Linked DNA regions of Homo sapiens: region 2 is linked to region 1. The links come from fine-mapping of genetic effects on gene expression. Tissue or cell type: visceral fat. Region 1 holds a variant in brackets; the other region holds the start of a gene. All regions are shown on one strand. Distances are from middle to middle.

Evidence for each region. PIP is the estimated chance that this variant, and not a neighbour inherited with it, causes the effect.
Region 2: CYP27C1 starts here. The variant in region 1 is fine-mapped to the expression of CYP27C1 in visceral fat (GTEx, PIP above 0.99).

What each region holds. Positions count from the first base shown.
Region 1 is chr2:127,174,412-127,182,603 of GRCh38, forward strand. No RefSeq gene overlaps it. Among named protein-coding and RNA genes, the nearest start is that of CYP27C1, 42 kb to the right of the region's middle. The variant A/G (reference allele first, on the strand shown) is at 4,328.
Region 2 is chr2:127,216,062-127,224,235 of GRCh38, forward strand. CYP27C1 (cytochrome P450 family 27 subfamily C member 1) reads right to left here and starts at 4,238. Exons shown (of 9, transcript NM_001367502.1): 1 at 3,928-4,238. The coding sequence starts at 4,209.

The sequences.
Region 1 (8,192 bases):
CCCCACCCTGTGCCCCTACTAGAGCCCTGGCACCCACCCACCCCCTCCCATTCCCACCTGGCACTCCCACCAGTCCTGGGTCCTCAGCAGCATGAGAGGCGGCAGGTGGTGTAGAAGGCACGAGGGCTCCAGAGGCAGACAGCATACAATAGGTGTTCACTAAACACCTGTTGAATGTGTGGACCGCTTGGATGCAAACCTAGACCTGTGATGTATGCTCATGACGGTTTTGAGTGAGCTTTTACTATCTCCAAGCCTCTGTTTTCTTATCTAAAAACAGGGGGTAAAAACAGTATTTCAGGGAGCTGTGGTGAAGACTGAGAGACAGAAAGGAGGAAAATGTCCCTGGGACACAGCAAGCCCCAGCAAAAGGCGGCACTCCTCAGCTGTGGTTGTCCGAAACTAAAGGCGGTGGGCAAGTGCAGCCAGAGAAGTCCCCAGAGAAGGCTCTTGAGGAAAAGTGTGTGCAAGTCCCTAGGGCAGAGGTGGAGAGGAGGAAAGGTGTCTACGCCTTCCTTTCAAGGACAGGGGGTGAGGAGACAAGATAGACTCAGGGTGGGAAAGAGGAGCCTCCTTTTTGCTTCTGCACCAAACCCAGGAGAGCTCCACCGAGCTCCGTCTAAGGCAGAGACGACAGGTCTCACTGTGCAAGGCAGGGATGCCCTGGGCTGTGGGAGCTGCCAGTGGGTGGGGCCTGCACACGTGGTCTGGGAGCAGTAACCCTGGAGACATCCTCTAGGCACGTGTGAGGCCTGGGAGACTCGGCAAGGAGGAGGGCTGAGAGCAGTGAAGTGTAGGGACAATGTATTAACAACAGGCTCAAACCCCTGTCCAGAGGCTGGGAGGGCTGTAGCAACTGATTACGGAGGGTCTTGCAAATGACTTACATAAACATGGGAACTGCAGTTGCCAAAACTGTGAACAGCACGATGCAGTCATTCCATGTCTGAGTTAACAAATCCAGGATATAAAAATGATCCAACAGGAGGAAGAACAGGCTAAAACCAGCAAAGATAACATTTGGCAAGGACAAATAGAAAGCCAGAGATTCAGGTCACTAAATGCGGGGTAGGGGAGCAGAAGAGAAGGGCAGGTCCCATGGGAGGAGAGGCAAAGGGTGAATTTTTCTCCAGCAGCTTGGGCGGGGTGGCACCTGGCCAGAGGCTTGTTAGAGTTCGTGATGCTGCATGCTAGGAAAAGATGAGTCTGGCCTGTCCGGGGCCTGCTCTCGGAGACAGGAATGGAAACACAGGGGAGGGGCAGTGGACGCTGATTCGTAGCTGTGTAATTGACAGTTTGGCTGGTCCTTGTCCCTAGGTCCTGGGAGGTTGCCTCTAAACCCTTATTATTCATGGTGGATCCTTGAGCTACAGCCCATGGTTTATGCTAGCAAGGTAACTCAGGATGGGGGGCCACCAGGCCAGAAAGACCAACCGTGTAAGGAGAGGGTTGGGGCTTTGAGATGTCAGCCTGACCCGGGCTAAGGGAGAGGGGCTCGAAATGAAGTCCCGTGAGCTGTGATCCGATCAACCACGCCTACATAATGAAACCCAGTAAGAACTCCAGACGTCACAGCTCCGGTGAGTTTCCCTGGGCGACAGCACTCTGTGCACCGTCACACACAATGTGCGGGAAGACAGTCGTGTCTGGGAATGACGGAAGCTTCGTGTTTGGGACACTCCCAGGCCTCACTCATGCATCTTTCCCTTCGGCTGGTTCTGACTTGTATCTTTGTGTTTATAATAAAACTGTAATCCTAAGCATCGTGCTTTCTTGAGTTCCCTGAGTCATTCCAGTAAATTATCCAGTAAATTACCAAACCCCGATTCCTGAATTTGTAGCCACCCAAGGGTGACCTGCCACCAAACTTGTGGCTGGAGTCTGTAGGAAGACAGTCTTACGGGGACTGTGTCCTTAACCTGTGAAGTGTGGCCCAGACGTCACCGAAACAGTGCTTACTGATTTCCATCGTGTAAACAGTCCTGCCACGACTGTTTCAATGCTCGCTTAAAACAGAACCATCAGCTCCCTCAAGCCAGCGTGGCATGAACCAGTGCCAGCACACGGCCGGGTAGGGGCAGAGCTGAGCGGCTCCAACACAGCTGAGAGGAGGCGGAGACAGAAGCCCCGGGGAGCAGTCAGGAGCATAAGGGAAGAAGCACGGAAAGAAAGGAGCTGTGTCGGAGGAGGCTCAGTCGGCAGAGGCTCTGAGATAGAGAAAAGATGTGTAGATGGGGAGGAGGGAGGGAAGCCAGCTCAGAGAGAGTGGTGGTGCAAACAGGCCCAACGTTCTTCCCATGGGCCAGGCACCACCCCAGGACAACTCCAAGAGGTCGGTGTAAGGTCGGTGTAGTCATCAGCTGGAGAGCCTGGGGCACCGAGGTCCAGCCGCTTGAGAAAGTCCTGCCGCTTGTCAGCGAGGAAGCCAGGATTTACACCCAAGCCTGCACACCATGCCACATGTGTCCCCACTGTGACCTGGACTTCATTTCCGCTTCTGTTGCATTTTCCCCAATCTGCACTCCCTTCTGTAATGGTGCAATCCTTCATGGGCACATGATTCCAGTCCTCGCTTCCCTGATGACTTCCTGGAACCCCACTAAACTGGGGCTCAGAACTGAAACCATTTCCCCACCCTCGGATTAAATGCACTGCAATAGGGCTGGGCGGTCACTTTGCGGCAGGCTGCTTCATCAACAGTGTGAGGCAGATACGCAGAGAGGCACCCTTTACGGAGGCCCAGCTATGTGCCAGAGGCCGTGTGTCCATGAGCACATCCAATCCTTATCAAGCAGAATGGCTGTGGCTATCCCTGGTCTTTAAGGAAAGACCTCAGGGCCCTGGAGTGCTTGCCAAAGCCAAGCGCTAGACAGCATGGAGGACTGGACGGACGCCGGCCCTGTCTGTCTGCATCAGAAGCCCAGAGGACTCCACGTGTCCTGCTACTCATTTTGGGAGCTTCAGGCAGGGTGAGGGAATGAAGCATCTGGGGATGCACAGTCCAGCAGCGACGTTCGGGACAATAACAAGGGCAGATCCGGGTCTCTGGTTCCAGCAGCCTCCTGTGCCCACAGTGCAGATGCTGGGATGGTGCTCCCCGTGCTCTCCACACGGCCTCCAGAGGCAGAGCTGCTGGGTGTTGTCTCCTCAGGGAACCCCCCCACCCCCCGCCGTGCGCCTCTGGAATCATCTATTGATGGAAATGGCTTCCACATCCTGACAGGGTGTTACTTCTCCTTCTCTCTATGTCTACTAAAAGCCCACACACTTTGTTGCTGTTGCTTTCTTTTTAAAAGCTTGGCTATAAGCGAAATACATTCTGGCCACATTTCCCCCCCACACAGAAGGCAATTTCAGAAGTCTTTGGGGGTCCCTGGAGGGTGCCCACTTGCCGTGGCTGCTCCAATCCCACGTACGACATTCATGACTCAGACTTGAGGGGACCAGGAGACACTCTGGAAGTGACATGGTGATCCTAGGTTTTCACTAAGTCTGTAATTTAGAAATCCACATGTGGTGCTATCAACACAATTGCCTACCACATAGCTGACATTTAAAACCCACGCCACGTCCCTGGCGTATCGCGGTGGTGGTGCCACACCGTCCTGAGGCTGACAGGGCTCTCTTGATGGTGCAGCCCTCTCTGCGGAGCCTCCTGATCCACTGTCCACATCCACGCATTGGCCACAGCAGATCTGGGCCCTCGGCAGAGAGACCGAGATGAAACAAGCCAGTGCGGTTCTAAGTATAGTTCTATTGGAAAGTGTTTATTATATAAGAGCTAAATTATAAATCAGAGCCTGTATATAAAACAAAGCATTTGGCAGTGACTAAAATATCTCCTCCTCTGCTGTGTTTCATCCCAAGAGACACACAGTGTGGTGCTTTGGGGCAGGGTCCTTGTGGGCTGCACAGATCCCGGGACCCATCAAGATCATTCCTTTATTAATTTTTTTATTTTTTTATTTTTTTTGAGACAGATTCTCACTCTGTCACTCAGGCTGGAGTGCAATGGCGCGATCTCTGCTCACTGCAACCTCCACCTCTTGGGTTCAAGTGATTCTCCTGCTTCAGCCTCCTGAGTAGCTGGGACTACAGGTACATGCCACCACACCGGGCTAATTTTTATATTTTCAGTAGAGATGGGGTTTTGCCATGTTGGGCAAGATGGTCTTGAACTCCTGACCTCAGATGATCCACCTGCCTCGGCCTCCCAAAGTGCTGGGATTACAGGCGTGAGCCACCACACCTGGCCCATCAAGATCATTCCTATCCAAGCTTCATTGCCTAAATCTACGTTTGTCCCAAAAGGTGTCTCGTGTGAGAC[A/G]TTGGGGTCCTTCTTCCCCTCATTCTTTATACTTCATGATGAAAACTATTAGTGGATTGAGAAAGAGGAACACAACAGAAGGACCCAAACAAACAAAAAGCCTGAGAATGAAAGATATTAGGCATCTTTCTAAAATTAAGGCACAGCTTCTGTTTGCAGCAATACGGTAGACTGAGGTATTAAAATCTCCCACTACAAAACACCTAGACATGCTGGATAAAGTATGTGTCCCTCTAAATGCATGCACGAGTCCACAGAAAAGTAAAAAGACTGAAGGCCAAATATGTTAGAGAGTGTGTTATTTTTCTATCCTGCCATTTAAAAATCACCATAATCTTAGTGGCTTGAGATAACGCAAATTTACTATCTTACAGCTCTGGAGGTCAGACATCTGACGCAGGTCTCACTGGGCTGCATTCCCTAAGGGAAAATCCATTTCCATAGCTTTTTCCACTTCTAGGGGCCACTGACATTCCTTGGCTTGTGGCCCCTTCCTCCATCTCCAGAGTCTGCAGCGGTGCATCTCTGGCCATTCTTCTGTCATCAGATCTCCTCTGACTCTCTTGTGCCTCTCTCTTTCACTTGTACGAAACTTTGTGATGACACTGGGCCCACTCTGATAATCCAGGGCAATCATTCCATCTTAAATCAAATGATTAGCAATGGTAATTTTATCTGCAATTTGCATGCCATCTAGCGTATTCTCAGGTTCTGGAGACTAGGATGTGGGCATCTTTGGGGCAGGGGGCATTACTCTACCTACCACCGAGAAAAAACTGAAAATCAAAAACGTATAAGTGTGGCTGACACTTTGGCTGCCTTGGATGGGGAGGCTAGCAGTTTCCAAAGGGCTTGTTTTCACTAACCATGAAGGCAAGCAATGTGGCCCAGGCCCAGAGGAGGGGAGTTAGAAACAAGGCCACCCCACAAAGAGGATCATCAAAGGGCTATACTTTCGGAGAATAAATAAAAATCTGTTCATTGACCAAAAGTGGCCACAAAAGACTATGTCTGTCTCAGATTGTCTCAAAATGTTTCCATGAGAATGCACAGCCTCAGGCCTGCCTGAAAGCATTGTCAAGGAATCCCACTGTTGAGAAATAATAAGAAAATAGCAATTTCAAGCTGTTAACACCCCTGGGGTGTCTGGCAAGAGCAAATCCAAAGCTCCTTTGAGGAACATACCCTCAGTCTGGGCTGCACATGTTCTACAAGTAAAGCTCCACCAACAGAGACGCATGCCCCAAAACCACAAAGCAAATGAGGAAACAAGCCATGGTGAGCAACAGTCCAAGCAACAGTGCACCAAAGAACTCAACTCCTGGGAACTCCAAACAACAAAACACACAGAGGTGGATTATAAAATAAGTATGCTTACAGTCGTTCGATAAAAGGAGTCAAGGGATGATACAGGAGCAAGACATTGTTAAGATAAAGACCAGGCTTGTTTGAAAATGAACCAAATAGTGTTTATAGAATTGAAAACAACAATTATTGAAATGATGGACATGTTTAGTAGCAGATTAAATATAGCTGAAAAGAGCAATAGTGAACTGGAAACTAGATTGAAGAAATTTCCCAGAATGCCACTCAAGAGACATAAATAGGTGAAAAGTTTGAAAGAAAAGATAAAAATCAGAGAATGAAGACAGAAGATCCAGTTCCAGTTTACTAGAAACTCCTAAATGAGTAAATGAAGACAACAGAGAAAAGCAATACTCAAGAAAAAAATGGCTGAGAATTTTCCAGAATTGATGAAGGATATGCATCTTCTAATTCAGGGAGGTTTTTCTATGAGCTGTAAGTAAAATAATTAAAATTTATGAAATAGGAGAACTTCAAGACCAAGAGCAAGGACAGCCAGACAGAAATGATAAATTGCCTACAGAGTGAGAATAGAATGACCTCAGACTTCTCAATAGCAATAACCAAAGTCTAAAGACAACAGAATAATATCTTCAAAGTGCCGGGAGAAAATAACCACTAATATGGAGTTCTATACTCAACTAAATTATTTTAGAATGAGGGTAACCTCTAGATCTAACTACAAATATGCAGGAAAAACAGGGGATAGAAGAACATGCTAAATGATACCACAGGAACGAGATCAGCAACATTCAGATTGTGGGAAATTCTGCAGGAAAAACAATTCAGTTTCTTCAAGAAATAAACTGCAAGAAAAAAATTTAAGAAAGACACAGGAAGAGAGGGAGAGAGGGAGAACCTTAAAAGATACTTAAGAGACAAATCAGTCCATCTCAAGGAATAAACATTATTTGAATAGATTCACACTACTTCAAAATTTATATTTATGAGACAATTGAAAATTTGAATGCTGATTGGATATTTGAAAATTATAATGCATCATTGATAAATTTTTAGCTATTTTTATGGTATTACGTGTTTTTTTTTAAAAAAAGAATCCATATGTTTTAGAGATATATACTGATGTGATGAAATGAAACTGGACTGGAAATGAGGTGTTAAAAATTTTGAGGTTGGATACATTGTGGTTCATTATTCTATTTTTGTGGTTGTTTGAAGTTTTCCTCTATACAAGTATAATAAAAATAATAGTAGTTATAATAAAAGGAAGTGTTAGTTAAAAAGGCTTCTTCCAAGAATATGGGTAAGTAAATAGTGCTATATTAATATCAAGAAATATTGTGAAGAGTTAAAATTAAAGAAGCAGATTCACTTGTAGCAACATGAATAAATCACTTAAAATGATTGAGGGAGCAAGTTGTGGAATGATACAGTATGACACTATTTATATTGCAAAAGAAAATAAAATTTTAGGACCCTCTAAATGTATTATGCCAAGGGAGAAGTTGAGCCCCGAGACTGAGTCACACTGCCTGTTTGCAATTCTGATGCTTAGATTATAGTACCACTCTCTCTTCATTGTTCTTGTTCTGTAAATGACTAGGAAAGACTGGTGACCAGACCTCCCATTTCCAATCACCAATCTTTGGTGGGGAGAGTGTGGGACACAAGGGAGTCAGCGGGAGGGTTTTAGGTTCTGCCCTGGAGGAGCACTTGGAGGGGCCTAGCTCCCAAGCAGAAGTGGACCCTGGATGCCCAAGGCTGACCGGCAGTCATAAGAAGCTGCCTGGTGGAGAGGCACTGCCCGTTTCTTGGTAAGTTTGGTTGGAGACTCCCTGTTTGGGAAAAGCCCTGAGAAAGAACCCCCAGGAGGGAGGGTCCATTTTGCATCTGTGTCTGCCCAGGCTGAAGAGGCTCAGGCCAAGTCTCCGAGGCATCAGTCAAGTGGCTCCTGTCCCACCCCAACTCCTCTTCCTCCCCCAGCTCCAAACCAGAGGAGCCTGAGAGCCTAGGGTGGGAGTGGGGTAGGGCAAGGCAGGAAACAGAGAGGTCAACGGCACCCAGCCCTGCTGGCATCCAGCCTCCACCGCCCTGAGCTGAGGGAGGAGAGATGCTCAGCTTTAAGCAAAGTTTTCTTTACACAGGACTGCATGTTTTCATTATTAAATGAGAGTGTGGCAGTGGCTAAAAGTCACTGGAGAACTTTTTCTTTCCAGGAAGTGACCTAAGATGTATTGAGCCTGGGTGCAGTGGCTCGCACATGTAATCCCAGCACTTTGGGAGGCAGAGGTGGGCGGACCACATGAAATCAGGAGTTTGAGACCAGCCTGGCCAATGTGGTAAAACCCTGTCTCTACTAAAAATACAAAAATTAGCTGGGCTTGGTGGCACACACCTTTAATTCCAGCTATGCGGGGAGGCTAAGGCAGGAGAATCACTGGAACCTGGGAGGCAGAGGCTGCAGTGAGCCAAGATGGTGCCACTGTGCTCCATCCCGGGCCACAGAACGAGACTCTGTCTCAAAAAAAAAAAAAAAAAA
Region 2 (8,174 bases), 42 kb after region 1:
AAAATCAGAACCCTCTTATGATAATGGTGGGGATGTAAAATGGTGCAGATACTCTGGAAAACAGTCTGGCAGTTCTTCAAAAGGTTAAATATAGAATTACTATTTGACCCAACAGTTCCACTCCTAGATACATATCCAAGAGAAATGAAAACACATGTCTACACAAAACCTTACACACAAAAATTCACAGCAGCATTATTCATTACGGCTAAAAGGTGGAAACAATCCAAATGTCTATGAACTGATGAATGGATAAGCAAAATGTGGTATAGTCATACGCTGCAATATTATTTGTCCATAAAAAGAATGAGGTACTGATACATGCTACAACATGAGTGAACCTTAAAAACATTATACTGAAATGTTTAAAGTGAAAGAAACCACCCATAAAAGACCACATATTACATGATTCCACTTATGACATGTCCAGAATAGGCCAATCTATAGATACAGAAAGTAGCTTGGTGGTTGCTTAAAGCAGGGGGAATAGGAGAGTTGGGGGTGATAGCTGATGGATATGGGATTTCTTTTTGAGGTCATGAAAATGTTCTACAAGTTGACTGCGGTGATGGTTGTATACTTCAAATGGATGAATTATATGATATGTTAATTATATCTTAAGAAAGCTGTTACTCCCTGCATAAAAAGAAATCACAATAAATGTAAATAGACTAAATTATTCAGTTAAAACACAAAAGTGATGAGCCTCTAACATGGCTCAGCATGACACAGACAGGGCTGGGCTGGGGAAAGTTACTAAGACTCTCTTTGGTATCTGCCCAGCTTTCTCACCACTCCAGCTCTCAATCTCAGAAACAGTGGGCCAGGAGCACTGTCATTTCTCTACTCTTATACTCACTCCTTCTGGAGACCTGAAAATGAAGACATTCAGACTAAACTGGAATGAGTCCATCTCCAAGGGGTCACTTCTGCCTAACAAATAAGTGGCCCCCAAAGAGTTCAGGTCTCTAAAGGGGCCCACTGAAGGAATGACTGGTAACAAGAACTACTGGGAAATGGGCCACTCCTCAAGCAAATCCAGCTACTGAATTGGGTACAATCAGCACAAGGGAACTGGAGGTAGAAATGATACAGATAGTTTTCATCACTTTCTGGTGGTGGGCCATGGAACTATACAGTCAGGCACAGTACTTAGAGTTTGCTTGGATGTTAAGAGCACAGACTCTGGAGTTTGAATCTGGGCTCACAGTTTACTAGCTGAATAACCTTTGGAAGTTAGGTCCCACTATGCCTCAGTTTCCTCACCCAAAAAATGGAGAAATAAGTTTCACGTAAGACTTGAAACTGTGCCTGGCACATGAAAAGAGTTCTAGAAATACTGATCGTTATTATTTGTTATTATTACAGTTTCATAACACTAAGCTCATTTGACCTTATCATAACCCATGAGAGGAATGGCGATTGCTAATCTCCTTTACGGATGAGAAAACTGAGGTGCAGAGAGAATGAGTGACTAGCCCAAGGCTCCACAGGTGGCTGCAGAGGGCCAGCATTGGAGGACATGACTCCTGTTTCGGCCATCCTGCTGCTCTACCACACCCTAAATAGCATCTAGTGACCCAAATTATGATTTCTACTCTGCCAATCACCAGCTGCCTGACCTTAGGCAAGTCGCTTAGGTAACCACCCAACTCTTTCCATCTGTAAAATGAGAGGTGAGCTATGTAGGTGAACACTAAGAGCCCTTGTTTAGCTAACATTCTGTGATTGCAAGGGGAGCGCAAGTGAACTGGATGTGATGGGCCACAGAACAATGAGCAACCTGGAGAGCGGGAAGAGAGGGTTTTTCTAGAACCATGTGTTCGAAATTGGGAGTCCTCAGAGGGGCTGCAGGAAGGTGAGAGTCCCCACAAGTACCATATTTGAGGGTTGGGGTAGTGCCACCTGGAGAGTAAAGGGAAAGAACTTTTTCCTTTATTTCTTTTACTCTCCAGGTCCTGTGTGCGCTTGGTGAGAAGGCAGCAAGTGAGTCAGTTGTGACTCTCTGCTCCGTGCCCCAGGGCCCTGGGTGTGGTGAAGGAAGCTGTCTGAGCAGTGGGCAGGAGGGGCTGAGCTCAGGGTGAGGGCTGGCGGCAGGGGCGGGTGAATGGAAAATACCCATCTGAACTGCCACACATCCTGACTGGATACAGGCTTTAACACGGTCCGTCTCAAAGAAACCTGTGCCCATGGAACAAACTCTGGGTGAGGTATGAGGATAAAAGCAGATGGCAGTAGGGGCGGATAAAAGAAAAATTAAATTACACTTCAGAAAGCAGGCTGTATTGAACCCATCAACAGCAAATAACAAAACACTTTTTACTGTATTTGAAAGTTGCCATCCTGATATCTTATCAGATCCTACAAAGAAAATCATTTTTGAGCCCTCTAAGCATTGGGGTGGGGGTGGCGGTTTGGAACTGTATAGGGTTGGCGTGGCGGACTTGAGGAGGGACGGTTGGGACTTCCTGGCATTAAAATTAAATTAAATTTTAATTCCCGGCCGAATTAAAATTGCTCCTCGCACGCCCGTTTTTCCATTAATGAGGGTTGGGGCTTCTCCCTCACGTTCATTGACTGAATGGCTGATGGAACGAATGAATGACTGAAGCCCAGGTGGGTAGTTAGAAGAGGCTTCGATGGAGAAGGGTCTCGAAAGACCGGAACTCTGGGCAGAAGGACAGGCCTGGGTGGGAGGAGAAGGGGGCGTTCTCGGAAGACACCAAAAGCCCCCATACCAGAAATAACAGTGCGTGCTGGGCCGGGCACCCGGGGAGGCGGACGATGGGCGAAGGCATCGGAGGGCGCCGCCGCGGCTCGGGTGCAGTGCCCCTGCCACGAAGGGCGCAACGGAGGTGGGCGTGGGAAGGACAGCACTCAGGCTCCAAGTGGGAAGCGTGCGGAATTCGCCGGCCCCAACGCCCTAGCGGGTGGCTGGGACCCCTGGGTTCCTCCCACGTCCCTGCCTCCAGTCCCGGCGCGAACTCCAGGTGTCGCCCCCAACTCCGGCTTAGAGCCTACGGCACCCCGAGCCTCCGAGCCTCCGTCCCCTCTTCCCCCGCCATTACAAAATACAAAAAGGACTAGAAATGAATACACACGGTCTCGGCCACCTAAGGACACCGAGCTCCGCAGAGCCTAGAGGAGCTAGGGAACCTAGCGCTCCCCTCGGGCCGGCCCCAGGCAGCAGCCCCCCTCAGCCCCAACTCCGCGGGTCCCGCCAGCTCTCCACTCCCAGGCCCCGGCGGCGTCCACCAGGCGCCCGCTGCCCCTCCCCAAGTCTCCTCCTCCGGGACCTCAGCCCTGGTGCCCTCCCCGCAGTCCCATTCCTGGTTTCCCTTCGCGGCGCCCCCTCCCCAGGTTCCCCAACCAGGCAATCCCTGCCTGGGTCCCTCCCCGGGACCAGTCCCTGGAGACCCTGCCCGCCGCCTCTCTCGGGCTACCACTCTCCGAAACTCCATCCCTGACTCCCCTCCCCGCTACCTCCTCCCCAGGGGTCCCGGCTGGGGCCCCTCCAGGGGACCCCTCCCTGCCGCCACCTCCCGAGACACCCATTTCCCCCGCCTCTTCCCAGCCGTTCCTTTCTGGCCCCGTTCCTCAGCTCCCTCTGCCTGCTGCCCCTCTCCGGGGTCCGCTTCCCGAAGACCCCTCCCCAACGCCCCCGCCCCGCTCCCGGTTCCTGCCTCCTCCACCCCGGATCGCCTTTCCGGCGTCCTCTCCCCAGCGCCCCTTCCTGCGAACCTTAACCGGACAACCCCAGTCCAGCTCCCCCAACCCACCGCGGCGCCCAGTGCCCGGGGATCCCTGCCCGCCGCCCCTCCCTGGGACTCCCCAACCCCGCGCCCCTCCCTGGCGCCCTCCCGCCCGCGCCGTCAGCCTTCTGGGCAGCAGCCCGGGCTGGCTCCCTCCCGGGGCGGCGCGCGCTACCTGGATCTCGTGGATGCGGCTGAAGCCGTCCCTGCAGAAGAACTCCGCCAGGTTGGCGAGGGTCCTCGGCCCCGGCATGGCGGCGAGGCTCCGGGGACCCTCGGCTCGGCCCCCTCCCGGCGGCGACCCCGGCCGCCCGGCGCCTTTGTCCTCGGCCCGCGCCCCCGCCGGGAGCCGTGCGCCCGCGGGTTGAGGCCGCCGCGGGGCCCCGCCGCCCAGGAGCCCACCCCGCTCGGGCGCCGGCCGCAGCCCGGCTCTCAGGATCCGCGCCAGCAGGGCCATGGCGCTCGTCTGCATCGGCTTGTTTGTCTGAGCAACTTTGTTTCGGGGGCTGCTCTTTGGGTTGCTGTTTCCTGCGTCTTAACTTGTCAGAGCAGTGCTTCTCCGTACTCCTGCCGCCGGGGCGTCAGTTTACACAGACCCTTATTAAAGGCTCCCTCCCCTGGGGCTGGGGAAAAGGCTGTGATTAGACTGCAAGAGAATGAGGCTATTATTATTTCTTCACATCATATTAATTCACACTTAAGCGTTCCTTGAAACCACCAAGTTTTAAGGTCAACCCCACTTCCAACCATGGCCAAAAAAAGAAAAGTCTACGGGGATCTTGTAAATTATTACCGTCCTTCGAAATGACTACTGAAGGTATACTGAAGAAATCTTTGGTCTTTTTTGCATTTTAGAAGCAGTTCTTTATGGTTTCAACTTAAATTATTGTAACTCAACTTTCAAAGGGGGGGAAAAAAGTGAGACGATTTTGCATGTAGTTCCTACTGTTGTAAAATGACCACATTATTATCTTGCCACAAGCTTTCTTAAAGACAATCACAGTCGTTTACGATGGCTTTCCTCGGGCTCATCGCTTTTATTCCGCACACCATTGGAAGCAGTGAGGACTAGGTGAGGGTGAGCGACTTTGAGCATGGGGCGTTTATCTGGTCCCTCACAAGGACGGGTCCTGTTGCACAAGGCTTGGGGAAGAGAAGCCACCTCCATGCCGAGGCGAGGAGAGGAGTCCGCCAACCTAGACTCAGAGCCCAGTGCCTGGCTGCACAAAGAAGTGGCCGCACAGGGAGGGATGGAGCACGGGAAAGGCCAGAGGTGTGCCATGTGGTTTCAAGGAAGGGAACTTTTTCCTAGTCAGTAGTTAAACTGCTCGCTGAGTTACATTATTTGAAGATTTCATACCGTTGGTACTCATGCATCTAAACGTAAAAAATAAGATTTTTTTCCGTTTACAACGTATTGTTACTAAGCATTTTTTTTTTTTTTTTTTTTTTTTTTGAGACAGTCTCGCTCTGTCACCAAAGCTGGAGTGTAATGGCGCGATTTCGGCTCAGCAACCTCCGCCCCCAGGGTCCTAGCGATCCTCTTACCTCAGCCTCCCGAGTAGCTGGGATTACTGACGCTGTAATCTTGAAAAAAAAAAAATGCTGCCGCGCCCGGCCAACATTTATTTTTTAAGAGCAGAGAGGGAGGTTCAGGCCTGTAGTCCCAGAACTTTGAGAGGCCGAGGTGGACGGATTACTTGAGTTCAGGAGTTCGAGACCAGCCTGGCCAACATGGTGAAACCCCATCTCTACTAAAAATATAAAAAATTAGCCAGGCGTGGTGGCACGCGCCTGTAATCCCAGCTACTCGGGAGGCTAAGGCAGGAGAATCGTTTGAACCCAGGAAGTGGAGGTTGCAGTGAGCTGATCTCGCCATTGCACTCCAGCCTGGGTGACAGCAAGACTCCATCTCAACAACAACAACAAAAAAGAGCAGGCCGGGCGCGGTGGCTCACGCCTGTAATCCCAGCACTTTGGGAGGCCGAGGCAGGCGGATCACGAGGTCAGGAGATCGAGACCATCCTGGCTAACACGGTGAAACCCCGTCTCTACTAAAAGTACAAAAAAATTAGCCTGGCGTGGTGGTGGGCGCCTGTAGTCCCAGCTACTCGGGAGGCTGAGGCAGGAGAATGGCGTGAACCCGGGAGGTGGAGCTTGCAGTGAGCCGAGATCTTGCCACTGCACTGCAGCCTGGGCGACAGAGCGAGACTCCGTCAAAAAAAAAAAAAAAAAGAGCAGAGAGGGGTCTGGCAGTGTTGCCCAGGCTGGAGTGCAGTGGCTATACACAGGCACTATCACTGGGCACTACACCTTCCAACTTCTGGGCACTACACCTTCCAACTTCTGGGCTCAAGCCATCTCCAACCTCAGCCTCCCAAGGAGCTGGGAGTACGGGCACATGCCACCATGCCCAGATAAAAATATTTTATTTTATTTTTTAGACACTGGGTCTCACTATGTTGCCCAGGCTGCCCTTGAACTCCTGGGCTCAAGCGATCCTCCCCCTGAGTAACTGGCATTACAGGTGCAGGCCACCGGCTCAGCTAAATATTTTATTTTTAATGAGTAGTTTATACCTTTACAACTCTGTAAAATCTACACTGCATTTGAATAATTGAAGTATCACGTAAGTGACGCAAAGAAGGCTATAGTTACTCAACTTACAGAATTTGATTAATAACACCAGGTGCGGTGGCTCACGCCTGTAATCCCAACAATTTTGGAGGCCACAGCAGGAGGATTGCTTCAGCCCAGGAGTTCAAGACCAGCCTGGGCAACATAGCAAGACCTGGATACTACAAAAAATAAAAATAAAAAAATTAGCTGGGTGTGGTGGTGTGTGCCTATAGTCCCAGCTACTCAGGAGGCTGAGGCAGGAGGATTGCTTGAGCCCAGAAAGTCAAGACTTCAGTGAGCCATTATCATGCCACTGTGCTCCAGCCTGGGCAACAGAGCAAGACCCTGTCTGTAAAAAAAGAAAAGAATTTGATTAATAAGTACTCAGCAACTCTTATTTATTTATTTATTGAGACGGAGTCTGGCTCTGTCGCCCAGGCAGGAGTGCAGTGGAGCAATCTTGGCTCACTGCAAGCTCCGCCTCCCAGGTTCACGCCATTCTCCTGCCTCAGCCTCTGGAGTAGCTGTGACTACAGGCACCCGCCACCACGCCCGGCTAATCTTTTGTATTTTTAGTAGAGACAGGGTTTCACTGTGTTAGCCAGGATGGTCTCGATCTCCTGACCTCGTGATCCGCCTGCCTCAGCCTCCCAAAGTGCTGGGATTACAGGCTTGAGCCACTGCACTCGGCCCTTGCAACTCTTAATTATAAGGCATGATAGCTGCAAAGTACTCAGTAAGACTTTGATCCTGCCTTTAGGAGGCCATAACCTATTTGAAGAATAAAACAGGTACACAAATACAAGCCAGATTACTATAAGTGTCACAAAACTGGACTGAATATGATTGGAATTTGTGGCAAGAAGCGATCACATCTAGTTATAGGGTAGGATGGAGCAGTGCAAAAGAAAGTCCTCCTGAAGGAAGTAGCACTCAGGCAGGGATTGAGGAAAGGAGCCGTTTAGCAGGCAGAAGTGGGTGGCAACACGGCTAGCCAGCAGAGGATGAAGAATGGCACAATCGCCTTGCTCTAGGAGAGGCTTTTAAAGTTTTGCAGAGGGCTACTGGTCCTTAAGAAATCATTAAAGGACCGCATATGTAGAAGTCAATTCATTCCATTCTGGACGTGAAACTATTCAATATAGATAAACAATGATTGATGGTTGTTAAATAATCATATATTAAACTGTTCAATATAGGTAAACAATGATTTTAAAGGCAGCTGGTTCTCTATGAAGGCTAATTAAGGAAAAGACTGCAGTAAAGAAAGGAAGGAAGAGGAGAAGGAAGAATACAGAGAAAGACAGGGGGAAGAAAGATTTAAACACACATGGAGACAGGCTTCTCTGGAGCTCCCTGCAGCTCCCCCGCTCTCCTGTGTCTTAGGATATCATCTCTGCTGATGTCTGAAGCTAGTTTCCATAATTAAATAAATAAACAAAGATAGTAGTTCTTGAAATTTGCCTCAAGCTCTAATGATATTAAGCCTAAGGCTTTTTTTTTTTTTAATTATACTTTAAGTTGTGGGATATATGTGCAGATCGTGCAGGTTTGTTACATAGGTATACTTGTGCCATGGTGGTTTGCTGCACCCATCAACCCATCATCTAGGTTTTATGCCCCACATGCATTAGGTATTTGTCGTAATGCTCTCCATCTGCTTGCCCCACAACCCCCAACAGGCCCCAGTGTGTGATGTTCCCCTCCCCGTGTCCAAGTGTTCTCATTGTTCGACTCCCACTTATGAGTGAGAATATGTAGTGTTTGGTTTTCTGTTCCTATGTTAGTTTGCTGAGAATGATG